6 separate regions of the Homo sapiens genome follow, and regions 1, 3, 4, 5 and 6 are each reported to be linked to region 2. Evidence: microRNA targets listed by miRTarBase, many of them from high-throughput screens and not tested one by one. Region 2 holds a microRNA gene; each other region holds the end of a gene's coding sequence.
What was found. The annotated mature microRNA hsa-miR-4436b-3p reads CAGGGCAGGAAGAAGUGGACAA and lies in region 2 at 1,211-1,232, shown strand. An mRNA with a match to its seed (bases 2 to 7 or 8) in the 3' UTR can be bound and repressed. Matches are read on the target gene's strand: a 7mer-m8 pairs with bases 2 to 8, a 7mer-A1 pairs with bases 2 to 7 and ends in A, and an 8mer does both.

Region 1 (4,071 bases), not on the chromosome of region 2:
ACCCGCGACCTGCTGCGGAGCCGTGGCATTGCCGGTCTCTACAAGGGACTCGGGGCCACGCTGCTCAGGTAGGAGGCACAGGGCAGGTGGGGGGAGGGAAGGGGGAGGCCGGCCTGCCCACCCCACCACCTCCTGTCCCCACGGCCACCTCCCTCCCCACAGGGATGTCCCCTTCTCTGTGGTGTACTTCCCGCTCTTTGCCAACCTGAACCAGCTGGGCCGCCCGGCGTCCGAGGAGAAGTCGCCTTTCTACGTGTCCTTCCTGGCCGGCTGTGTGGCTGGGAGTGCCGCCGCTGTGGCCGTCAACCCCTGTGATGGTCAGTGCATGGGATGGCGCCCGGCTGGGGATGGGGCGGGACTGAGCCCTTGGCCAGGCTCACACTGACCCGAGCGCCCCTTGCAGTGGTGAAGACGCGGCTCCAGTCACTTCAGCGAGGCGTCAACGAGGACACCTACTCTGGGATCCTGGACTGTGCCAGGTGGGGAGGTCCCACGGCGGGTGGGGCCTGGGGGCCTGCGTACCGGGCTGACCCTTTCGTCCTTCCTCCACAGGAAGATCCTGCGGCACGAGGGCCCCTCGGCCTTCCTGAAGGGCGCCTACTGCCGCGCGCTGGTCATCGCGCCCCTTTTCGGCATCGCACAGGTGGTCTACTTCCTGGGCATCGCGGAGTCCCTGCTGGGGCTGCTGCAGGACCCCCAGGCCTGAGCCCAGCACCCGCTCCACCCCAGCCAGCTGGGCAGGGCCGGTGTGGGGCTGGAGCCAGGCAGCTAGCCCAGGACGGAGCAAGGGAAGACCCCTCCCCAGCCCTCCCGTCGGCAGGGGCAGCAGGGGGCAGGGTGCAGGGTCCACATAGGTGGTGCACACGCAAGCCCCCCGGGGTGCTGCCTGCACCGTTGGGATCAATGTCTCATTTATGTAGAAAATGCAGAAATCTTTACATTCCTCAAGCTAGCCCCTGCCCCAATCCTGCCCTGGCCTGAACACCCCCAGGGACAGAGCTGGTCTCTGGGCTGGGGGCCCCCGGGCCTGGGCCGGGCAGGCTGGACCATACCCCCAGTCCACCAGCTCCAGTCTCCACAGCCATCCTGGCCCACACAGGCACCCCACACAAACCTATTTATTGAATCTGCTGGACCCAAGCGGCTCTCCAGCCCTTCCGTCCTTCCCCAGCCGCTCTTGTCGCCTTGGCAGGACTTGACTCTGCCTCCCTGGCCAGCCTTGCAAGAGGACTGGGGTCTCCTGCCCTCTCTGTTGAGCCAGGAATCCCAAGTGAGGGGTTGCCCTGAGGTCTGACTCTTGGGGCAAGCCCGCCACCCACTGTGGGACTTTCTGGTGGGCTCCTCAGCTCCCACCCCAGGCTGGGGCCCAGATTGTGAGGTCTGTGTGCATGTGTGTGTGTATGTGTGTGTGCATGCGTGTGTGTGTTGTGGGGATCTGGCCTGGCCCTTGGGGATGGGGCTGCTGGGGACTGCCCCCCTTCCCGCCGTGGCCAGGCGCTCTGTGTGCTGTGTGTGCCCCAGGCTCTGTTGACCCCGTCCAGGAACTAACTTACCCAGCTTGGTCTCTCCTGAGTCCTCCACCCTGGCCTGGGATTGGCCAGGGAGCAGGGCGGGCATTGGGACCAGTGTGGAGCCTGAGGGTGCCTGCCCTGCTCTGGAGGGAGGGCCAGGAGCTGCCACACCCCCAAGTCCTCTCAGGGCCCACCCTCCTTTTTCAGCCTCTGCATAAGGCCCCTGGGTACACTGCAGAAGCCCCATCCTTCCCGCCTCCGGGCATAAGGCCCCTGACCACACTTCAGAAGCCCCATCCCCCCTGCCACCGGGCGATCCCTGCTGTGAGCCGAAGCTCTCCCTGCCCCGCCCTGGCCATGTGATCGTGTTGGTGACAGACCCTGATGTGCTGGTGCTGTGTCCCCAAAACCGGGGCCCTCCACAGAGGCCCCTTCCCAGCGACACTACCTGGGGCTCAGGCCTGGACCCCCCCAGTTCACGGTTGCTCCTGGGAGCTGCCCCTCCCGTCACATCAGAACCTTGGAAGCTGCTGCTGCTGCTTACAGAATTATATTTTTTTCTTTTGAAGAGTTTTAAGAAGTTGTAACTTTTTGTGTCTTGTCATGTCAGAGAATAAATAAATATTCTAAGTAGATGCTGCTGTCTGTCTGGGGGTCTGTTTGGGGGCGGGGGAGGGCAGTCCCCTCTTCCCATAACTGGCTCCCTTCAGACTGCAGGGCTAGGCCTGCGCACCCACCCACCGACCCCTCACCCACCGACCCGTCACCCACCGACCAAGGGGCACCCTGGCCTAGAGGGGATGCTGAGCGGGACCCGCCTCCTGCCTCTGGCAGTCCCAGATGGGACTTGGACCCCGCAGTTGCTCTCTCGGACCCTAAGTTTCTACCCCTGGATCTAAGGCGGAGCTGGGTTTGCGGATCCCACGGTTCCCGGCGGGGCGGGGCCCGGTCGCCCCTCCCCCTCCCCGCCCTCCTGCGCCGGGAGCAGTGCATTGTGGGAAACTCCCGAGCTCTCCTCCGCGTTCGCAGCCGCCGTCATCCCGCGGAGGAGCGCGCAGCCCCGGGGAGGCCGGAGGACGCGTAAGGCGGGGGGCTCCCGGCGGGCGGGGCGGGCGGGGCGGGCGCGGCGTCCTGCGGGGCGAGGAGGCGGCTCCGGGCCTTGAAGGTCACTGGGTTTGCGCGCGGGCCCCCCAGTTCTCCAGGGCTCAGTTGATCCCGGGAGAGGGAGGCGGCGGCCGGGATGTAAGTGCCACAAATAGCGAGGTTGGGGGGGCAGACCACCTGCTCTTTGCAAACTTGATGCCCAGCAGCTGAGCCCCCCGAGAACTGCAGGGGTGAAGGGACGGCTGGGCTTCCCTGGGAGGTGGCAGCAGCTGGGCCTCTTCTGGAGACGCCCTCATCATGCTGTGACCTTCGGGTGACCTTCAGTGTGGTCAATGCACCTGGCGGGGGGTGGGGAACGTGCCTCCCTTTCTCTGCAGGTCTGGAGGGCATTTCTCATCCTTCCCTGGGAGAGGCAGACAGGCGGCCTCTGGGGCTTTGGGGCAAGACCCACTCAGGTTCAGGGCGGCTGGGCCCCCAGGGCCCTTCCCACCTCTGCCTCGGTCATTGAGAATCTGGGCACCGCCTTTCCCACAGCCCAGAACCCTGTCCTCCGCCCTGACCCGCGGGCCAAGTGCAGCATGTGCCCACCCTGTTTAACGCCAGGAACCCTCTGCCCACAGAGACAGCACAGCCTTGGGCTGGGCGAGGACTCCCTGCTCCAGGGCTGGAGGCAGGCACGGCCCATGCTGAGGAGGGGGCCCCAGAGGCTGGGGAGGGGCAGACGGCCCTTGGAAGCACAGCCCCACGCTGACTTCCTGGAGAGACACCCCAGTTTTCTCAAGTCTGGGTTCTTGTGGGCCCACCCACCCTGATGGCTGCCTGAGATCCCAGCTCCTGCCCCTCCCCGCCCTCCTCCCCCTGGGACCCTGGCCAGGTCACAGCCTCCGTGCTTTAGTGTCCATCTCTGCAAAGCAGGAATGCTCTCCTGAGGAGGGGATGCAGTCAGCTCTCCCACTGGGGCTCCGATCACCTCCTTGGAGGGGAGAATGCTCTTCCTTCGAGTTCTCTGGGCCTGATCCTTACTTCCCCACCAAGAGCCTCCTGCCCCCGGCTGGTGGGAGGATGTGGCATTTGCATGGGCCATTTTATGGAGCACAGTGGGGTCCCCTACCTCCTCCCACCTGTGCGTGGCCCTTGCCTCTGCGGCTGGAGGGGCCCCTTGAGGAGTGGTCATGGACAGATGGAGTCCAGGCCGTGAAAGAGAAGTGTCAGAGGCCCACGGGAGGCCCCTGAGCTGGGGCTCCAGAGAGTCCAGAGAACTGGGCAGGGGCTGCCTGGGGACCAGGTGGTCGGGGCAGCACAGGGGGGACTGGACCCGCGCGCAGCCTCCCTTGTGTCTCCCTCCAGGCCCATAGAATGCCCAGGGGCGACAAACTGTCCTGAGCCCCTCTGGTGCAGCCACCTGCCTGTCCCATACGCCCCGCCCACCATGGAGTCCAGAGGGAAGTCAGCCAGC
Region 2 (4,086 bases):
TGGCATCCTGTACATGAGCGCTGCCGTCCTACAAGTACATGCCACGATTGTTTCTGAGAAACTGCTGGACCCAAGAATTTACTACATTAATTCGGCAGCCTCGGTGAGTGGGCTGGCCAAGGACAGCAGTCTTGCCTGGAGGATGTTTCGTGCAGGAGGCCTAACTTTGCTTGTGCTGTATAGACCCTGAGCCCTCAAGTGGAAGGAGCCATGGGGGCAGGGGATAGGGATGTGTGTCCCTGTAAACATGTGCACCCACGTTCAGGGGTCCTCTTTTACCTTCTATTGTTCCCACTCCAGCTTTCCTCTCTCTTAGACACCCCCCACGCTGTCTGCAGAATTTTCTTTTTCCAAAACACAAATTGGAACAGATGTCTCTCTCCTACTGAAAATCCTTCAATGGCACCCACTGCCTTTGGAATGGGGCCCGCATCCCTCGGCATGGCTGAACTATTGAGAGATGAAGCAGGGAAGGGGAAAGTGGAATGTCGAGGTCTCAGGGGAGGAGGCATCAGGGAAGGCCCTGTCAAGAGGACAGAAGGAGGCAGGGGCCACCAGGCAGTTACCCCTGCTAAGGTCCCACCAGGCAGTTACCCCTGCCAAGGACCCTCTGTGTGCTCAAGGGCAGCCAGGAGGGTGGTGTAGCTGGGACAGCTGGCCATGGAGGATTGCAGGGGCCGTTGCTGGTCTTGCAAGTTTAGGAAGTTAAACTCACCTGATGAGGAGGGAAGGGAGGCAGACAGGCCAGAAGGCAGCTGAAATATCTTGTGGCCACCCCAGAGGGTCACAGTGCACTCCACAGTGGGTGGCATTTACCTCCATCTAACCCATGTATGTGCTACTCATCTATCTTGCTGCTATCTGCTTCTTATCTCTCAAATGTAAGCTCCATGAGGGCAGGAATTTTTGAATATTTTCTTCACTGTTATACCCACAGTTGCTCTTGAAGGAAAGCAGGTCCTTAAAAGATATTTGTTGACTGACTGACTGAATGAGGAGCGTGTGAGTGGACAGTGGGGCAGAGTGGGGCTGGGATGTTTGGCAGGGCCTGAAAGGTATTGAAGGTGACGGCCCTACCCTGAGAAAAGAGCAGAGCCATCATACAGCTTCAACGTGGGGCAACGGGATTGTGTTCTCCCCATGAGTGAGAAGTGTCCTCACTTGTCCACTTCTGCCTGCCCTGCCCAAATGGTGGAGCAGATTCGAGGGGCAGGGCAGGAAGAAGTGGACAAGTGAGGCCATGAGGAGTCCTGCCGAGGGATGCCGGTGGCTGAGACAAGGGAAAAATGAATGTCCCAAGAGCTAGGCAGGGAAATCAGTAGCCTTTGGGGTGGCTTTGCATATGGCTGGCAAGGGAGGCAGGAGGAGCCAGGGGCCACAGGGGTCAGGCTCAGGGAGTGGGGCGAGAGGAGGACCCTGGGGCCCACTGGGCTTGTCAGGCTTGTGAGGAAACGTCAGGGGCTCAGTGTGAGCCAGGAAGAGCTGGAGGATGTCTGAACATTCACGAGGAGCTGATAAGCAGCCGCTCAGGGCAGAGTTCTGGGCCAGCGAGGGGAGCTGTAGGAGTGTTCAGAACACAGATTTGCTGGAGGTGGGCAGAGGAGAGCGGGCCTCGGGCAGGAGGTCAGCGTGGGATATGGGCCCAGAGCTGTGGTGGAGGTGAGCCTGCTTCACAGCCAGGTGCAGATGAGGTGGAGACTGCAGTCGGGGCAGGACACCAGGACGGCCCCAGGGAGGCCCTGATGGAGAGTTTCCAGAAGAGGGAGTTGTTGGCCAGGGGTTGCTGCCCTCAGGCCACGCAGGAGGCGAGGAGGCAGGGTCATGCGTGGCCTCCTGGGCAGTGGGGCTGAGGGTACCTGAGGGGTGGGCAGGAGCTGGCGCTGCTGTCTCTAACAGTCACTCTCCACCTCCTTCCAGTTCTTCGCCTTCATCGCCACGCTGCTCTACATTCTCCATGCCTTCAGCATCTATTACCACTGATGCACAGGCGCCAGGCCAAGGGGGAAATGCTCTTTGAAAGCTCCAATTATTGGTCCCCAAAAGCAGCTTCCAACGTTTGCCATCTGGATGACAAACGGAAGATCCACTAAAACGTCCACGGGATTAACAGAACGTCCTTGCAGACTGAGCGATGACACCACACTTTGTTTGGACATTTAAATTCACTCTGCTGAATAGGAGGAAGCTTTTCTTTTTCCTGGGAAAACAACTGTCTCTTGGAATTATCTGACCATGAACTTGCTCTTCTAGACAACTCACATCAAAGCCCTCACTCCACTAATGGAGAATCCTAGCCCCACTAATGCCAAGTCTGTTTGGGGATTTTGCCTCAGCTATGGGCTTCCCTAGAGTAGGTCTAGGGGAATACTCAGTCTGATCTTTTTTTTGTTTGTTTTATTTTGTTTTTTTTGAGACGGAGTCTCGCTCTTCCTCCAAGGCTGGAGTGCAGTGACGCGATCTCCACTCACTGCAGGCTCCGCCTCCCGGGTTCCCGCCATTCTCCTGCCTCAGCCTCCCGAGTAGCCGGGACTACAGGCGCCCACCACCGTGCCCGGCTAATTTAGTTGTATTTTTAGTAGAGATGGGGTTTCACCGTATTAGCCAGGATGGTCTCGATCTCCTGACCTCGTGATCCGCCCGCCTCGGCCTCCCAAAGTGCTGGGATTACAGGCGTGAGCCACCGCGCCCGGCCTGATTCTCTTAAAATTGAAGAGGTGCTGCCAAGGCCTTCAGATCTAACGCAGATGCATAGACCTTGTTCCTGGTACTTGTTCAGCCTGTGCTGGGGAGCCGTGGTCCCGAGTTCCCTGGGAGGCTGACAGGGTCAAGCCACCCTGCCCACCACCCTCCCACTTCCCCTCCCCTTTCCTCTCCAGCATTAGGATTCAAGGGAAATTTGCATGAAGCCAATTTTGAGGGTAGACGTGTGGGGAAAATAAATCATTATACAGTAAGACCTGGGGCTTGAGGGGTGGGGAATGGGGAGGGAAGGGCATAGCCTGCTCCTCCATGAGTCTGACATCTCGGAAACTGAGCAGCTGCCGGACGCCTGGGTCAGGAATCCAAGACCCCACCTCTTAAGGACTGGTTCCTCAGAAAGCACCCTCAGGGAAAAAGGTGAAAACATTACATCCGTGGATTCTCCTGCCACAACCGCATTGGAAGAAAAGGCTGCCGCAACATCTCAGCGAGGAGTGAAGGACCCATGTCCCAGGAACCGCGCTGCGCCACCTGCACTCACCCCCCTCACATTCTCTTAAGCACCCGGTGGCCCTCCGAGGCCTGGCGGAATGGTGGTGCCCACGGGGTTGGGCAAGGGCTCACCAGGACCTCAACGGGCAAAGTTGTGCACACTAAAATATCAAATCAAGGTGCTTGGTTTTAAAGTAAATGTTTTTCTAAAGAAAGCTGTGCTCTTCTGTTGACCCAGACGAATAGGGCACAGCCCTGTAACTGCACGTGCCTTCTGTCATTGGGAATGAAATAAATTATTACGAGAAAGGGACTTGTCCTAACTGGTTTGAGGCCTTACAGTTTTGTATCTACATTTTTCCCCTCCTGGGGTTTGCGGGGACAGGGACAGAACTACAGGAGTCATGGGAAAGAAAATTCTGGCTTCACTACTGCTCACTGCTCACTTTCTGATCACTCTGATACTTTTTTTTTTTTTTTTTTTTTTGCAACCTGATACCTTGAAAAGCTTCTATGTGTCTCTCCTTTTGTTGCCTGGCAGCTGTCTAGGATGATCACTGATTACTATTTACTAAGTAGCCACATGCAAATAAAAGTTGTTTGGTAAAAAGGAGCAGTTGGTCGACTTCATCTTGTTAGCATCTGGAACTGGCCATCAGGTACTAGGTGTTGTCAGTAATTTCAAGAAAAGCACCCCTTGGAGCATTTCACAACCTAAGTTCTCTGAGGGTGGGATCCCAGCCCACCCGGCCTTGCTTCTAGAGCAAGAGCGAAGGGAGGTCACATTTGTCTCCAGGGCTTCGGGTTTATAATGTCATTTGTACTTCAGTAAGGACAGTTTGGGTGCAAGTTCCGGAAACCAAACTCATACAGCTTAGGCAAAAATGGGAGTGC
Region 3 (4,086 bases), not on the chromosome of region 2:
AGATGAGTTCACAAGCAATCAGTGCTGGAAGGATGTGCAAAATAAAAGTTAAGAGAAGCTGAGGATATAGAAGGCATCCTGAAAGTAAAACAGCTGAGGACCACAAAGCATATCATGGAAAATCTGTTAAGCAGGGGAGGTCAGGTAGGAGAGGAAAGAATAGTCCCTCCCAAAGGAAGCAGTTAAATAAGTCTGTGGGAGGTCAGTGGTAAAAGGAAGTGGGAATGAAGTGAACAGAGAGTGCAGCTAGGCCTTCCCCTAGGAGATAGCTACTGAGTGTCTTTTAAGCCAGACTCTATTAACAGGGAAGGGAAGTGGGAGGTCCATTGGCCTTTGTGAACTATGAGCATAAACACAAACCAAGAATGACGATAACTTACAGGGTTAAATTCTGGTTCTTCAATAATTCTATTCCCTTTACCAACAATTGATTCAAAAATAGACATGTGACCCAATTTTAGGCCACGAGACAACAAACTGGGTGGCTTCTGGAAAACAGCTTCCCAAAAAGGTAAGACCAAGTTCCCTTCCATTTCAGCCGCTTAAGTTAGCACTTTCTGCTAAATGCAGCTAAACGTGTTCTAACTAGTTAAATGGCACAGAACAATGGATCTGTTTACTTGTAATAAAGTCAGGAAAGAAACATGGAATATGTAAAAGCACAGGAAATTCAAATCATGCTATGACAGCCAAACCAGTAAAGTCTTAGAGTTAATGAGGAGAAAGCCTTTAGCTGTACCTCCACAGTGGCCATACCCTAGGCAGCATTCCCAATACCAAACATACCCCTCTCCCAGAACTGCTAAGTCTAAGCCCAGAGGAGAAAGGGAAAGGTAGGGTAATTCTCTCCTCAAGGAGACCAGGGGTCCCTGGACCAAGCCATGGGGAGGGTGCTAAATGATGGACACAAAGCCTATTCACAGAACATCCTGAGGCCTTAGGATGAACTGGATTTCAGCAACCTTCTCTCCCCAACATTCTGGCAGTGCTAAATGCTTGCTCAATGAAAGTGAATTTTGGCAAGAAGAGTCCCCAGAAACCCAATATGTTCTGGCTGGAGAACAAACCTTCCTGGAAATCCCGTAGCTCAGAAAGCCAATGTTTCCCTGTTCCCCTGCAGGGTTGGGGCAGGCTCTAGACCACGGCCTCTATCATGAATGCACCAGTGGTATCAAGGCCGATATTCTGAAAAGTAACTAGCATACCAGGCTTCAGGAGCTTACCTTCCAGGTCTGGGGACAGTGACAAGCCCAAGCTCCAGGAAGACTATCAAAGGGAAACAACTGCTATTAGGGCAGCAGGAGAAACAAGCACTGGAGAGAGGCTGAGTATGTGAATAATCCCACACTGTGATCACTCATGACCTGCTAAAAGCTCTGGCTTGCCTCATTTGAAGAAATAATCAAATTCTGTCTTGCTGCAAACCTATTCTTCCTGATTTTCTCAGGGACTACTCCATCCATACTGAAATAATGTTTGACTTCTTCCCAAGAGCAAGTTAGTTAACAAGTTTAAGATTTCTCCCCCATACTTACATGTCCATACCCTCCCTTCTGCCCATATTCTTTAATTATTTAATTTTTATTTCTTGGAGACAGGGTCTCACTCTGTCACCCAGGCTGGAGTGCAGTGGCCCATCTTAGCTCACTGCAGCCTGGACCTCCCAGGCTCAAGCAGTCCTCACCTCAGCCTCCCGAACAGCTGGGACTGCAGGCATGCACCACCATGCCCACCTAATTTTTTAAATTTTTTTGTAGAGATTGGGCCTCGCTATGTTGTCCAGGCTGGTCTCGAACTCCTGAGCTCAGGCGATCTTCCTGCCTTGACCTCCCAAAGTGCTGGGATTACAGGTGTGAGCTACTGGGCCCAGCCCCCTCCGTCCATATTGTTACCCACCACACCAAGATTTTCATCAACCAGTTTCACATAATCAGAGCAATCCCCTTAAATTCCTATATTCCTAGTCCCCCAAATATCTGATTATGTCCTTAGCATCCTCTCAAGTAGTCCTGACACCAAGCCTCCTCCTAAACCGCCCACCTCCATATATACACATATGTGAACACACAAACCTGCTTTGATCACACCAGTTGCCTCACTTGCAATGCACCTTCGCCCAAGTTATTGGCTGAAGCCAGGACTTTCATGGGGATTCAAGCAGAAAGTCTGGGTTATGGGAAAGAAGGCATTTAGTTGGCCGGGCACGGTGGCTCACACCTGTAATCCCAGCACTCTGGGAGGCTGAGGCAGGCGGATCACCTGAGGTCAGGAATTCAAGACCAGCCTGACCAACATGGAGAAACCCCATCTCTACTAAAAATACAAAATTAGCGGGGCATGGTGGTACCTGCCTGTAATCCCAGCTAATCAGGAGGCTGACACAGGAGAATCGCTTGAACCCGGGAGGCGGAGGTTGCGGTGAGCCGAGATCATGCCATTGCACTCCAGCCTGGGCAGCAAGAGCGAAACTCCATCTCAAAAAAAAAAAAAGAAAAAGAAAAAGAAAAAAGCATTTTAGTGGCCCAGGTGGCAACATAGTTCAGCTCAACATTCAACCCAACACTGATGATGTACAGCTGTGCTCTGCATAGGGCAGACAGCCCAGTAAAAGGCTCGGTGCAACAAAAGCCAAGAGTCATTGAGTACTTACAAATTGCTTAGCACAGTATTTGACATATAAGTACCATCTCCCTCCATTACTAACAATCACCACCGCAGAAAGTAAGTGCTATTACTATCCCCATGTTACATGAGGAAACTGAGGCTCATAAAGGTTGGGTAATTTGTTCAGGGCTCCACAGCTAACTAGAGGTGGACCTGCAATTTCAAACCCTGATCTGCCTGGTCGGAGTACTTAATTACATGATCTCCCAAAATAGGTTAGCCTTGCGGGGAGTGATCAATTAACTTACATAAAGTCCTTCCTCTCTCCAGTATCATGTGGGAAAGACTACTTGAAAGGACTGAAAGCCATATCTAGTTTGGAAGGGGTTCCCATAAGTAAACATCAAGTAAGATGCAGCATGTCATATTTTTATCCATTTCACACTCAAGATGAAGTTCCCAAGGATCCCTTCTGTAGCTGCTTCACCGTATATACCCTTCCTCATTCAGCCCATCCCAAAACAAATTCTGACAATGACACATGAGCTGCATGTAGCTGACCAGCCTACCAGATCTTTTATGCAGTTCGACATACAAGGTGACACCAAGGTAAGACAAATGAAGTTCCAGTTTGGGTGCCTCCATCTCCCTCCCCTGGATCCTGATCCAGTGACTGCCAAAACCAGAAAGAACTGGGGTAGGGTGCTTGATCATGGGGAACGCTGTTGTGGTTCGTCCGGCAGATGGGAAAAGGGAAAGGTTTCACTTCTTCACAATTTGAATGACATCCTCATCCTCCAACGTATGGTCTTTACCCACTTTCTGAGGATTGTGTTTCACAGAGAGACCCCAGACCAGAGCACTGCATGGAAGGGAAAAAGAACAGTCAGTGTAAATAATAACCTAGCTTCTGCCCTATTTGCCTGGATGCCACCCTTCTGCTCAGATTTAGTATCATACCCTTAAGAACCATAGACCTACAAAAGCTTTATCTTCCCTAGCAGCATGAGACACTGAAGCCTTAACATAAAAGCCGGTAAAGACTTCTGGAAGTTGTGTGGTTCCTCTTATTGCAGAAAGTCAAAGACAAAAAACATGTTTAGTATAAAGAGCCTAGTTTAAAATTAAAAGAAAGCATGGATTTGTTATAGAGAAATACTCTGGGCCGGGCGCAGGGGCTCATGCCTGTAATCCCACCACTTTGGGAGGCCGAAGGGTGCGGATCACCTGAGATCAGGCGTTCAAGAAAAGCCTGGCCAACATGGTGAAACCCCGTCTCCACTAAAAATACAAAAATTAGCTGGGCATGGTGGCGGGTGCCTGTAATCCCAACTACTCGGGAGGCTGAGGCAGAAGAATGGCTTGAACCCGGGAGGCGGAGGTTGCAGTGAGCCAAGATCATGCCGTTGCACTCCAGGTTGGGCAACGAGCGAAACTCCGCCTCAAAAAAAAAAAAAAAAATCCGTCTTTAATCTTCATAGA
Region 4 (4,086 bases), not on the chromosome of region 2:
TAATTGGCTAGAGAATACGTCCATCATAGGTCAGGGGTTTGCCAACTCTGGCGTCCAGAATCCCGCCCCCTCAAGTCGACCCGGGATGGGGAAAACTGCCCGTCTATTGCAAGAAGCGCGACTGGTGATTGGGCAAAATCCACCAGGAATGCCCTCCCCTTTACACCCAGCACCGCCTCAAAGCTTCCCGGGGAGCCCCGCGCTAAAGGGGCGTCTTGAAACACCTGTCCATCACCAAAACGACCCGCCTCCTAATCGCTGCCATTGGTTTATCCGGAAGCGACGTCACGCAGCCTTTGGCCCACCCTCGCCAAGCGGCCGGCCTCAAGGAGAACACGGCAATTGGCCCACGGGTAGGGAAGAAGGCGGGGCTTCAGGCACCAACGATTGGCTCAAAGGAATTATCACTCCTCGTCCACTCGGTGGATCCTCCCAACCCGGGGGGAGTCTGGAGGAAAAAGGGAGCTTGTGCTCATTACCTGGGGGAAAAACGGAATCGGTGAGAGGCCCAGAGAGAGGAAGGGCATAGCTGGGGTCCCGAAGCAAGTGAGGAATAGGAGTCCGTCGTCAACACATTAAATCCCTAGCCCTTGACATAATCATTCCAAGTTTTTTAAAACCATCAACCCCTCTCAAGCCACTTGGTTTTTGCCAAGTCCCTCCCCCTGCCAGGAACGCCCACCTCTCTTTGTCTGGTCAGCTTCTAAACGTGAATCAGAGCACAGCTTAGGCACCACTTCCTCCGGGAAGCTTTCCTTGATTTGCAGAAAAAGTTCCTAGTTGAATGAAGCTGAATGCAAAGGGCCGAATGCGTGGGTCCTGCCCCTCCTCTCCCCGATCCCTCTACTTCCCTCTGCTCACACTTCTCTCCAATCCCGGAATGAGCTCGCTCTTTGGTTTCTGGGCCTCCGCGCAGGCTATACTCTCTGGCGTGCCGCTGGCAAACGCCTGAGACTTAAAATTTACAATAGGGTTCGGGCGCGATGGCTCACGGGTGTAATTCCAGCACTTTAGGAGGCGGAGGCAGGCGGATCACTTGACATCAGGAGTTCGAGACCAGTCTGGGCAACATGGTGAAACCCCCATTTCTATTAAAAATACAAAAATTACGCCAGGCGGCCGGGCGCGGTGGCTCACGCCTGTAATCCCAGCATTTTGGGAGACCGAGGCGGGCGGATCACAAGGTCAGGAGGTCGAGACCATCCTGGCTAACATGGTGAAACCCCCGTCTCTACTAAAAATACAAAAAATTAGCCGGGCGTGGAGGCTTAGGCAGGAGGATGGCGTGAACCCGGGAGGCGGAGCTTGCAGTGAGCTGAGATCGCGCCACTGCACTCCAGCCTGGGTGACAGAGCGAGACTCTTGTCTCAAAAAAAAAAAAAAAAAAAATTTGGCCGGGCGCGGTGACTCACGCCTGTAATCCCAGCATTTTGGAAGGCTGAGGTGGGCGGATCACAAGCTCAGGAGTTCGAGACCAGCCTAGCCAATATGGTGAAACCCCCGTCTCTACTAAAAAAACAAAAATTAGCCGGGTGTGGTGGTGGGCGCCTGTAGTCCCAGCTGCTCCAGAGGCTGAGGCAGGAGAATCACGTGAACCCGGGAGGCAGAGGTTGCAGTGAGCTGAGATGGTGCCACTGCACTCCAGCCTAGGCGACACAGCGAGACTCCATCTCAAAAAATAATAAAATAAATAAAAATAAAAATAAAAAAATTAGCCAGGACTGGTGGCACACGCCTGTAATCCCAGCTACTTGGGAGGCTGAGGCAGGAGAATCGCTTGAGCTCAGGAGGTGGAGGTTGCAGTGAGCCAGGATGAAGCCATTGCACTCCAGCTCGAGCGACAGACCGAGACTCTAACTTTAAAAAAAAAAAAAAAAATTGAAAAGCATGGCACTAAACAAACCAAGAAAAGGACATTTGTTTCCAGTGTTTGAGCTGAAGCAAGAGGAGCCCAGCTGCAAATATGCACATCAGGTCTTTAGCTTGTTGCAGCTCTGTGCATAAGCATTGCCCTCCAAAACACCACAAAAGCACTGCCTTAATTTTTGGGGTATGAATACATTGTAGCAAGGATGCAAATTTGCAAATAATCTACAAATACTGAGGATCAACTGTAATTGGTTCGGTTTGTAATCCTGTACATTTCACTTATTAATTTACAAACATTACTCTGTGAAGGGGGATATGGCCCTATAAAGGAGACAAACCGCCCAGGCACAGTGACTCATGCCTGTGATCCCAGGACTTTGGGATGCCAAGGTAGGAGGATCACTTGAGCCCAGGAGGTGGAGACCAGCCTGGGCAACATAAGGGAGACCCCATTTCTACAATTTTTTTTTTTTTGAGACGGAGTCTCGCTCTGTTGCCCAGGCTGGAGTGCAGTGGCGTGATCTCAACTCACTGCAACCTCTTGCCTCCCGGGTTCAAGCGAGTCTCGTGCCTCAGCCACCCAAGTAGCTGGGATTACAGGCACCCACCACCATGCCCGGCTAATTTTTGTATTTTTAGTAGAGATGGGGTTTCACCATGTTGGCCTGGCTGGTCTTGAACTCCTGACCTCAAGTGATCCACCTGCCTTGGCCTCCCATAAAAATTCTTTTTTAAAAATTAGCTAGGCGTCGTGTCGCATGCCTTTAGTTCCAGCTACTAGAGAGGCTGAAGTGGGAGGATCACTTGAGCCCAGGAGGTTGAGGCTGCAGTGAGCCATGATAGTGCCACTGTATCTATATAACAGTGCAAGTATAGGCAACAGAGCAAGACCCTATCTCCAAAAAAAAAGGGAGAGTGGGGGGTGTGTGTGAGACAAACCACTGGTCTGTAGGTAGATGAGAAACCAGCAAGAGAGACTTGAAAGGAGCAATGGGAGGAGAAAAACAAGAAGAGGGTGGTGTCCTAGACACAGGTGAAGTTAGACTGTACCTTTCTGTGGAATTCACTGGAAAGACTCCATGACCATCATACAGCATTAGCTAGAATAACCAGATCGTGCAATAGGAAAAAAAAATGCAAGTTGCTGGAATATTTACAGGTATTCTCTCAAATATGTTACATGTCCAGGAGACAGGCTCTTGTAGGTGCTGCAAATAAATATTTCTAGAATGAATGAACTGGTTCTTTCCTCAATTTGCGTAAGCCACAGAAATCTCTGAACCAAATCTCCTCTCCTTAAAACTTTAGTTCCCAAGTGTAAGAACAGACAATTGAATACTTTGTAACGTTTTTAATAAGAAAAGTTTTAAACAATTTATTTTTGGCAAAAACAGGTAGGGCAACCACCACCCCACAGCCCTGAGTGGAATAGGAAGACTTGGAAAAGCACACGAAGAGGGCAGGGACATGAGGTGTCATCTTGTAGCAGCTTCTGAGAAAGAGCTCAGTCCAATGGCAAGTTCAAGTCCACGGGTGAAACAGCCAGGATGCCCTCCTGGAAGGGAAAAGTGGCAGAGCCCTGTGAGCAGGGCAGGTGTTCCCCCCATACAGCAGCGTCCACATCAGCCCTGTGAGATTAGAGACGGGAAGGCGAGGAACCAGAGAGCGGAGGGTGACAGACACCCAGACAAGGGGACAGAGACCCAGACAGAAGGGCACAGGGATGAGGGGGCAGGGTCCTAGCAGGAGGAGGAAAGGTTGAGCTCGAGGAGGGTCAGGACACTGGAGTGGGATTAGACAGAGATCCAGAGAGAGTGAAGAGTTGGGGGACAGAGTCAGAGATGGGGAAGAGAGTCTTGGGATTTGAACAATTCAGAGTCGTGGCTTTGTGTACAAATCCAGATTCCAACACTCTGCATGCTGGGGACTTTTCCTCTCTGCCCCCACAAGACGAGGACAATAAGAGCCCCATGAGGTTGTAGTGGGTTTAAATGGGATCATTCCATTGAAATCCCTAGCAGAGGACCTGGCCCACCGAGAAAACTCATCTGCTATCAATCCTACTTTAAAAAAATTTTTTAAGAAATTGTCCAGGCGTGGTAGCTCAGCCTGTAATTCCAGCACTTTGGGAGGCCGAGGTGGGTGGATCACTTGAGGCCAAGAGTTCGAGACCAGCCTGGCCAACAGGGCAAAACCCCGTCTCTGCTAAAACTACAA
Region 5 (4,086 bases), not on the chromosome of region 2:
GGAGGATGTTTGATCATCTGCTGGAAGGAGCAGAGTGGACATCCCATTATAATTCGGGTGGGTGGGAAGGTTCTGGTTGGGAGGGGTGGCCCTGGCATTCCATGCTCTGCCTGCTCCTAGGTCGTTGAGGAAGAGGAAGACTCAGGTGCCCCGCCCCTGAAGCGCTTCTGTGTGGACCAACCCACAGTGCCGCAGACGGCGTCAGAAAGCTAGCACCATCCCGGCCCTCCGCCTCCTGGCCCTGCCTCTATTTATTGCATTCTGGTTCTGGCCGCGCCGCGTTGCTGGGGTAAGGGCAAGCACTGGGGTCAAGAGCCTGCACACATGAGCCTTCCGGGCTGGAAGGCTGGCGTAGGACTTGGGGCTGTAGCATCATCTTCCTGACCCTGGCACCTGTGTCTACTTGCTCCCGAGAAGAGGAGCGCTCATGTCTTTTTTGCACCCCAAGTTGGCTGGAGCATCGGCCACCCCAAGATTCATCTGTGACCTCCAGGCAGCAGTCTCTGCTCCAGAATCTCTGGACGGAGCTGCTGGCAGCTTCTGCGAGAAGAGAGAGATGTGGAAGGCACCTTCTAGAAGAGAGCGTGCCTCAGGTTACTTGAACTTGAACGGAGACTGTAGACTCCCGGACTTTCCCCTAGGACTGGGGGCCCTGTAGGCTGCTGTTGGAGGACTGGGTAGAGACATTGGAGGGAAGGGAAGGGCTTTTCTCCACACAAGGGCAGAGAGTCCGTCTAGATTTCTTGCTGTCCTGCCAGCTCTGCCCATGCCTGAGGTGGTCCTACCTCTCACGGGCACCCTAGCTGCTGACAGCCCTTTGTGGCCGCCGTCCCCATCCCCTGCCCTCAGCACACACATCTGCACACACGCAGCTTTGTTCTCACCTCTACCTGTCATTCCAGCATCCCTGCCTCTTGTCACAAACTGCCCCAGCAAGAATTTGAGGTTCTGACAACAGTACCCATCCCCCACAGTACCCCTTCAGCTCAGTTTCTAGAAAGCTCCCTTTTCTTTGAAATCTGCATGTTGAATTGAACTTTGTGATTTTATTTTTTGTTTCAAAAAAGTTTAAGAAAATGGAAATGGGCAACAGTGAGTGAAGACATATTTTAGCACTGAATAGAATATTTTTAAAATTAAACTATTTGAAATATGTCCTGTTGGTATCTGAGTGCTTCCTTCTTGAAGGTTGCGGGCCGGGGTGGGGGTGGTGGCTGAGTGCTTGTGGGGTCACTGTGGGCTGGGCCTGCCCATCCTTTCACTCCCACAGTGTGGACTTCATGACAGTGATTTCTAGCCTCCCTTTGAAGCTGTCACGTAGTTCAAATTATGCTTCTCGCTGGGCGTGGTGGCTCATACTTCTTATCCCAGCACTTTGGGAGGCCGAGGCAGGAGGATCACTTGAGGCTAGGAGTTTGAGACCAGCCTGGGCAACACAGCAAGACCCTATCTCTATCTAAACAATATTTTTAAATTAAAACATAAAAACCAGGCCAGGCGCAGTGGCTCCCGCCTGTAATCTTAGCACTTTGGGAGGCTGAGGTGGGTGGATCATCTGAGCTCAGGAGTTCAAGACCAGCCTGACCAGCAAAATGAGACCCCATCTCTACTAAAAATACAAAAATTAGCCAGGCATGGTGGCAGGCGCCTTTAGTCCCAGCTACTTGGGAGGCTGAGACGAGCATTGCTCGAACCTGGGAGGTGGAGGTTGCAGTGAGCCAAGACTGCGCCACTGCGCTCCAGCCTGGGTGACGGAGCGAGACTCCATCTCAAAAAACAAAACCAAATTCCATCCCTGTGTACACCAAATGCAGCCCATGGATGTGTTTTCCACAGGTCCATGTAGTTCGGAGGGATTCATGAGTTCTTTTTTTCCCCCCTTGTGGTAAAATACACGTAACATAAAAGGTTTTTGTTTGTTTGTTTTTTGAGACAGAGTCTCACTCTGTCACCCAGCAGGCTGGAGTACAGTGGTGTGTTCTCAACTCACTGCAACCTCTGCCTCCCAAGTAGCTGGGATTACAGACGTGCACCACCACGTCTGACTAATTTTTGTAATTTTAGTAGAGGTGGGGTTTCACCATGTTGGCCAGGCTGGTTTCGAACCCCTTAGGCTCCCAAAGTGCTGGGATTACATGTGTGAGCCACTGCACCTGGCCAAGAGTTACTTTTGTCACCATTGTGAAGTGTGCATTTCAGTGGTACTGAGTACTGAGTACATTCACAGTGCTGGGCAGTCCTCACAGTCCAGCTCCGAACTTTTTTATTATCCCAAATGGAAACCTCATGTCCAGTTAGCATCATTCACCATTTCTTCCCCTCCCCTCGGGCCCTGGCAGCCACAGATCTGTTTATTTCCCGGAGTGATTCCCCTCATTTCTCACAGGGGCTCCAGGTGTCATGGATGAGACTATAATACAAGTTCTACTGTTCTATGTTTTGTTTTTGTTTTTTTTGAGACGGAGTCTCGCTCTGTCACCCAGGCTGGCAGTGGCGGGATCTCGGCTCACCGCAAGCTCCGCCACCCGGGTTCACACCATTCTCCTGCCTCAGCCTCCCGAGTAGCTGGGACTACAGGCGCCTGCCACCACGCCCAGCTAATTTTTTGTATTTTTAGTAGAGACGGGGTTTCACTGTGTTAGCCAGGATGGTCTCGATCTCCTGACCTCATGATCTGCCCGCCTCGGCCTCCCAAAGTGCTGTGATTACAGGCATGAGCCACCGCACCCGGCCCCTGTTTTATCTTTTCTTACAAAATATAAATAGGGCTGGGGCTGGGCACGGTGGCTCACGCCTGTAATCCCAGCTACTCGGGAGGCTGAGGCAAGAGAATGGTGTGAACCCAGGAGGCGGAGCTTGCGGTGAGCTGAGATCACGCCACTGCACTCCAGCCTGGGCGACAGAGCAAGACTCCATCTCAAAATATATATATATATATAAATATTTTTATATATATAGGGCTGGGCACAGTGGCCTGTAATCCCAGCACTTTGGAAGGCTAAGGCAGGAAGATTGCCTGAGCCTGGGAGTTAAGACGAGCCTGGGCAACATGGCAAGACCCTGTCTCATTAACAAATACAAAAATGTAGGCCGGGCGTGGTGGCTCACACCTGTAATCCCAGCACTTTGGGAGGCTGAGGCGGGCGGATCACGAGGTCATGAGTTCGAGATCAGCCTGACCAGCGTGGTGAAACCCCCATCTCTACCAAAGATACAAAAAATTAGCCGGGCGTTCTGGCACATGTCTGTAATCCCAGCTACTTGGGAGGCTGAGGTACAAGAATCTCTTGAACCTGGGAGGCGGAGGTTGCAGGGAGCCCGATTGCGCCATTACACTCCAGCCCGGGCGACAGGGTGAAACTCTGTCTCTAAAAAAATAAGTAATAATCTTTTAAAAATGTAACAGCCAGGTACAGTGGCTCATGCCTGTAATCCCAGCACTTTGGGAAGATCGCTTGAGCCCAGAAGTTCGAGACCAGCCTGGGCAACATGGTGAAACCTCATCTCTAAAACAAAAACAAAAATTAGCTGGGCATGTTGGTGCATGCCTGTAGCATCCCCTGCTCGACGGCTGAGGTGGGCGGATCTCTTGAGCCCAGGAGGTCAAGGCTGTCGTGAGCCGTGATCATGACACTGCACTCTAGCCTGGGCGACAGAGGGAGTCTCAAAAAAAGAGACATATAAAATCAAATTGTCAAATGAATTTTACAGATAATGTGATTGTATGTGGTACACAAAATACGTATTTTTTTTCTGAGACAGAGTGTTCTCTGTCACCCAGGCTAGAGTGCAGTGGCGTGATCTTGGCTCACTGCAACCTCCGCCTCCCAGGTTCAAGCAATTCTCCTGCCTCGGCCTCCTGAGTAGCCGGGATAACAGGTGCCTGCCACTGTGCCTGGCTAATTTTTGTATTTTTAGTACAGACGACGTTTCACCACCTTAGCCAGGCTGTTCTCGAACTCCCAATCTCGTTATCCACCCACCTCAGCCTCCCAAAGTGCTGGGATTACAGTCGTGAGCCACTGCGCTTGACCCTTTTTTTTTTTGTAAAGACAAGGTCTCACTATGTTGCCCAGGCTGGACCCA
Region 6 (4,080 bases), not on the chromosome of region 2:
AAAAAAAAAAAAAAAAAAAAAAGCCAGGCATGAGGGTGCACACACATAGTCCCACCTACATGGGAGGCTGACGCAGGAGGAACACTTGAACCCAGGAGTTTGAGGCTGCAGTGAGCTATAATCGCACCACTGCACTCCAGCCTAGGCAACAGAGACTCTTTTTTTTGTTGTTTTTGTTTGTTTTTCAGACAGAGCCTATTCCGTTGCCCAGGCCTGGAGTGCAGTGGCAGGATCTCAGCTCACTGCAACCTCTGCCTCCCAGGTTCAAGTGATTCCTGCCTCAGCCTCACAAGTAATTGGGATTACAGGCGCCAACTGTAGAGCGCCCGATCCTGTCACTGTTTGGGGCGCCACTACGTAACCCACAAGGACCTAGGGGGACTGAAAAAAGTGGGGGAAACGGGAATAAAAGAGACAAAAGAGTATATTTGGAAGAAGGGATCAGGGGACACCTTGCCTCTAGTGGACAAGGGCCCTGAGCTTTACACAGCCCTCCATATTTATTAGGCAAAAGAGATAGTGAGAAGGCGGGTGGAAGAAGGGGTCAGCTACTCAGTCCAGAGTAGGGTTTGCAAGATGGCATTCTCTAGATGTCCCAGTAGATAACCTCAAGGAGCTCAGCACCAGGAAGCGATTGCCCTCAGCAAACCTTCTGGCAGCGGAAGCAGTCATGAGTTTGCCCACATCGTGCATTCATGATAAAGTTTGCTGTTTGATCATATAGCCTCCAGTGGAATGCTGAGTTGGTCACATCCCATGGGCCTTCGGCTCCCAACAGCCCAGCACCATACCCAGCTAATTTTTTGTGTGTATTTTTAGTAGACACAGGGTTTCGCCACGTTGGCCAGGCTGGTCTTGAACTTCTGACCTCAAGTGATCCGCCTGCCTCGGCCTCTCAAGAGACCCTGTCTCTTAAAAAAGAAAAAAAAGAGGTTAAGATTGTAAATCCTAAAAAAAAAAAAGCAAAAGCAAAAGCTGTATGTAGATTTCACAGCATCTTTATTTATAGCACTTAAAACCAGGAAAACAGTGCAAATATATCTCATAGGTGAATGGATAAACTACTACATCAAATATGTATACTACTCTCAAATATAAACAACTTTCATCTGGTTAGATACATGGTGGTAAAAAAAAATAATAAAACAACTATTCATCAACTCATATAAACCTTAGGAGTAATTTGCTGAGTGACAAAAATGCCAAAAGCTTACATACTCTCTATCAATAAAAATTCATATAACTTATTTATATAAAATTTATAAAAACCATTTACAAAAACAATTTTATTTTTATCATATTCATGAAATGATGAAATTATACTGATAGGAGAAAAGTGGTTGGCAGAGTTAGGTTTGGATGGAGTGTAAGCATAAAAAGGTAGCATGAGGGACTTTGTGTTCATTAGTTTTATGTGGTTGCAGTGGTTACACGAATCTGTACATGTAATACAACTTCTTAGAGTACAAACTAAAAAAGAAAAAAACATGTAAAAATTCGTCAAATCCAAAATAAGATTAGTACTTTATAGTATCCTACCAATGTTGTTTTTCTGGTTTTGATAATTATGGTTATATAGGATATTTTTACTAGAAATTGGTTGAAGGATACTAGCAAAGCCTCTAGACTGCTTTTGCAATTTCGAGTTCAAATTTATTTAAGTTGAAGGTGGTTTTATAAACTGATCATCTCTATAATCTTAGTTAAGCAAGTCCAAATATGTTGTTAATATATTTAACATATTCAGTTTCTTTTCTACTTAAGTTTGCTTAATGTACAATTAAGCTCAGAGCCAAAGAAAGGAAAAGAGCTAATCATAATATGGGGTGGTTGTTCTGGAGTATTTTCTGACACAAATAAATTCTCTAATTCTCCCACACCAATTGGGTGTTCTACAATTCAATTCTGAACAACTGGGTGTTCTATAATTCAATTCTGACACTAACTTCTCCAAGTTAGTGCAGACTCCACAAGTTAGTGCAGTCCAAGTTAGTGCAGTGCAAGTTAGTTAGTGCAGTCTAAATTAGTGCAGACTCCACAAGTTAAGGGGCTCAGTCCAAGACTTCCCCCACATCAGATGCCACTCACAAGGACAACCTGCAGTTCTGAATGGTGATAAATTCCGAGTTCCCACTGCCCTACTCAGGTTTGATAATTTGCTACAGGGCTCACAAAACTCAAGAAAACAGCGTACTTTGTTTTACTGGTTATAAAGGACGCAAATGAACACTCAAATGAAGAGGTACATAGAGTAAAGCCTAAAAAGGGTTCTCCTAATCTCAGGAGCCTCTACCCCTATGAAGTTGGGGGTGCACCACCCTCTTGGGCTATTTGGAGTTCTCTTAATCTCATTGTCTAATCTAATCTCCAGCACCCCTCCCCTTCCAGGAGGTGGGAGAAATGGGGCACAAAGTCTCCATCCTCTAGTTACTTGATCTTCCTAGAGAACAGCCCCATTCTGAGGCTGTCTAGGGGAGCAACCATAAGTCACTTCAGTAGTATAATCAGGTGTAATTAAAAGGGCAGTGCTATGAATAACAACAACAGCAAAAACAAAACAAAACCAAAAAACTCTTATCACTCATGAAATTCTAAGCGTTTTAGGAGCTCTATGCCAGGAACCAGGAACAAAGACCAAATGTATTTCTCATTATACCACAATTTTACACAACAGTAAAAATAAACAGTAATGAGACAGTATATTATGGAATCATTGGCAAGGCAACTAGAAATGAGGATTAAGGTATCCTGACTGAAAATGCACACCAGGTGTATTAGCTGATGTTTAAGGTTATACTTATTAAGAAAAAGCACTCAAATATTCATCATTTTCACCACATTTCATGCCTTCATGAGCTGTTGATAGTTTGCTAAAGGTGTTCCACATTTATTTGATAGCATGTTCGGAACAATTTTACTTTCTATGTGATCTCCTGACAAATGATGAAGCAGAGTGCGTCGCTGAAATCCTGCCATCAATACTGTCACCTTAAAGTTATTTTCCAGTGTAAACTTTGACACTCACTGAGGTCATATTTCTGAGTAAAGACTTTGTCATGGTCATCATGTTTCTATCAACAATAAGCTCACTTACGTTGAAATCTATGATGAAACCTGATAATAAAGTCTATCTTTCCACAGAAGACTTTTCTTAGTCTTTGTATTCACAGAATTTATCTCTGTATACTTTTCAGACATATGAGCAGAAATTATTGCTCAAAACATCTCCACATTAATATAGTTTATTCAACGTATTTTCATTGACAGAAAATATGAGGTAAAAGACCACTAAAGGCACTACCTTATTTACTGTATTCATCAAATTGATCTCTAGGGCAAATTATTTCACCTCCTGAGGACAGACACACATCTGTCAACAGGCAGCACCATGTTTATGTTCCAATTGGCTAGAAACACACTGATGTTTAATGAAGTCTGAGTTGCCACAAAAGGCATTTCCATAGTCACGGCACTAGTAGGGTTTTCTTCTGCATGAGTTCACTTATAAGGAAGGAGCTGTGACTCTCCATTACAGGAGTTTTCAACTTGACTGATTCTACCCATTTCTCTTGTGTGCATTTTCTTATGTTTGACAAGGTTTGATAAGTGGGAGAAGGCTTTCTCACAATCACTGCATCCATACGGCCTCTCTCCTGTATGCGTTCTTTGATGTACATTGAGTACTGACTTTGTGGTGAAGGCTTTTCCACATTCATTGCACTCATAAGGTTTCTCTCCTGTGTGAATTCTCTGATGGGTAATGAGGCCATATTTGTGTGAATAGGATTTTCCGCACTCGGTACATACAAAGGGAGTCTTTCCTGTATGACATCTCTCATGTTGTATGAGGCATATTTTCTGGCTGAAGGCTTTACCACATTCATTGCATTCATAGGGTTTTTCTCCTGTATGAGTTCGCTGATGTATAATAAGAGTGCGCTTTGTGGTGAAGCCTTTACCACATTCATTGCATATGTAAGATTTCTCTCCTGTATGAGTTCGCTGATGTATAACGAGAGTGCGTTTGACAGTGAAGCCTTTTCCACATTCGCTGCATATGTAAGATTTTTCTCCTGTGTG

Region 1: miRTarBase lists SLC25A22 as a target of hsa-miR-4436b-3p. Seed matches in the 3' UTR shown: 7mer-m8 at 968-974, 7mer-m8 at 1,241-1,247 and 7mer-m8 at 1,645-1,651.
Region 3: miRTarBase lists DRG1 as a target of hsa-miR-4436b-3p. The part of its 3' UTR that is shown has no 7-base or 8-base seed match.
Region 4: the mRNA of BCL2L12 is a reported target of hsa-miR-4436b-3p. Seed matches in the 3' UTR shown: 7mer-m8 at 3,326-3,332 and 7mer-A1 at 3,265-3,271.
Region 5: miRTarBase lists BCL7B as a target of hsa-miR-4436b-3p. Seed matches in the 3' UTR shown: 7mer-m8 at 840-846.
Region 6: the mRNA of ZNF614 is a reported target of hsa-miR-4436b-3p. Seed matches in the 3' UTR shown: 7mer-A1 at 3,332-3,338 and 7mer-m8 at 2,520-2,526.

What each region holds. Positions count from the first base shown.
Region 1 is chr11:788,550-792,620 of GRCh38, reverse strand. It overlaps SLC25A22 (solute carrier family 25 member 22), which reads left to right. Exons shown (of 10, transcript NM_001191061.2): 7 at 1-68; 8 at 163-317; 9 at 404-479; 10 at 553-2,146. The coding sequence ends at 706. CEND1 (cell cycle exit and neuronal differentiation 1) reads left to right here and starts at 2,531. Exons shown (of 2, transcript NM_016564.4): 1 at 2,531-2,591; 2 at 3,963-4,071. The coding sequence starts at 4,045. RefSeq lists a silencer at 2,391-2,620.
Region 2 is chr2:110,083,589-110,087,674 of GRCh38, reverse strand. MIR4436B1 (microRNA 4436b-1) reads left to right here and starts at 1,152; the gene lies at 1,152-1,242. MALL (mal, T cell differentiation protein like) reads left to right here. Exons shown (of 4, transcript NM_005434.5): 3 at 1-103; 4 at 1,918-3,805. The coding sequence ends at 1,980.
Region 3 is chr22:31,433,252-31,437,337 of GRCh38, reverse strand. DRG1 (developmentally regulated GTP binding protein 1) reads right to left here. Exons shown (of 9, transcript NM_004147.4): 9 at 2,886-3,466. The coding sequence ends at 3,367. It also overlaps a transcript of EIF4ENIF1 not described here. Among named protein-coding and RNA genes, the nearest start is that of DRG1, 36 kb to the right of the region's middle.
Region 4 is chr19:49,673,036-49,677,121 of GRCh38, reverse strand. BCL2L12 (BCL2 like 12) reads right to left here. Exons shown (of 7, transcript NM_138639.2): 7 at 3,206-3,424. The coding sequence ends at 3,374. It also overlaps a transcript of PRMT1 not described here. Among named protein-coding and RNA genes, the nearest start is that of PRMT1, 2.2 kb to the left of the region's middle. RefSeq lists enhancers at 1-212, 217-366.
Region 5 is chr7:73,533,425-73,537,510 of GRCh38, reverse strand. It overlaps BCL7B (BAF chromatin remodeling complex subunit BCL7B), which reads left to right. Exons shown (of 6, transcript NM_001707.4): 6 at 121-1,155. The coding sequence ends at 213. Among named protein-coding and RNA genes, the nearest start is that of BAZ1B, 13 kb to the right of the region's middle.
Region 6 is chr19:52,012,342-52,016,421 of GRCh38, forward strand. ZNF614 (zinc finger protein 614) reads right to left here. Exons shown (of 5, transcript NM_025040.4): 5 at 983-4,080. The coding sequence ends at 3,499. The region is part of intron 1 of LOC124904755 (a long non-coding RNA gene); the gene reads left to right. Among named protein-coding and RNA genes, the nearest start is that of ZNF615, 6.2 kb to the left of the region's middle.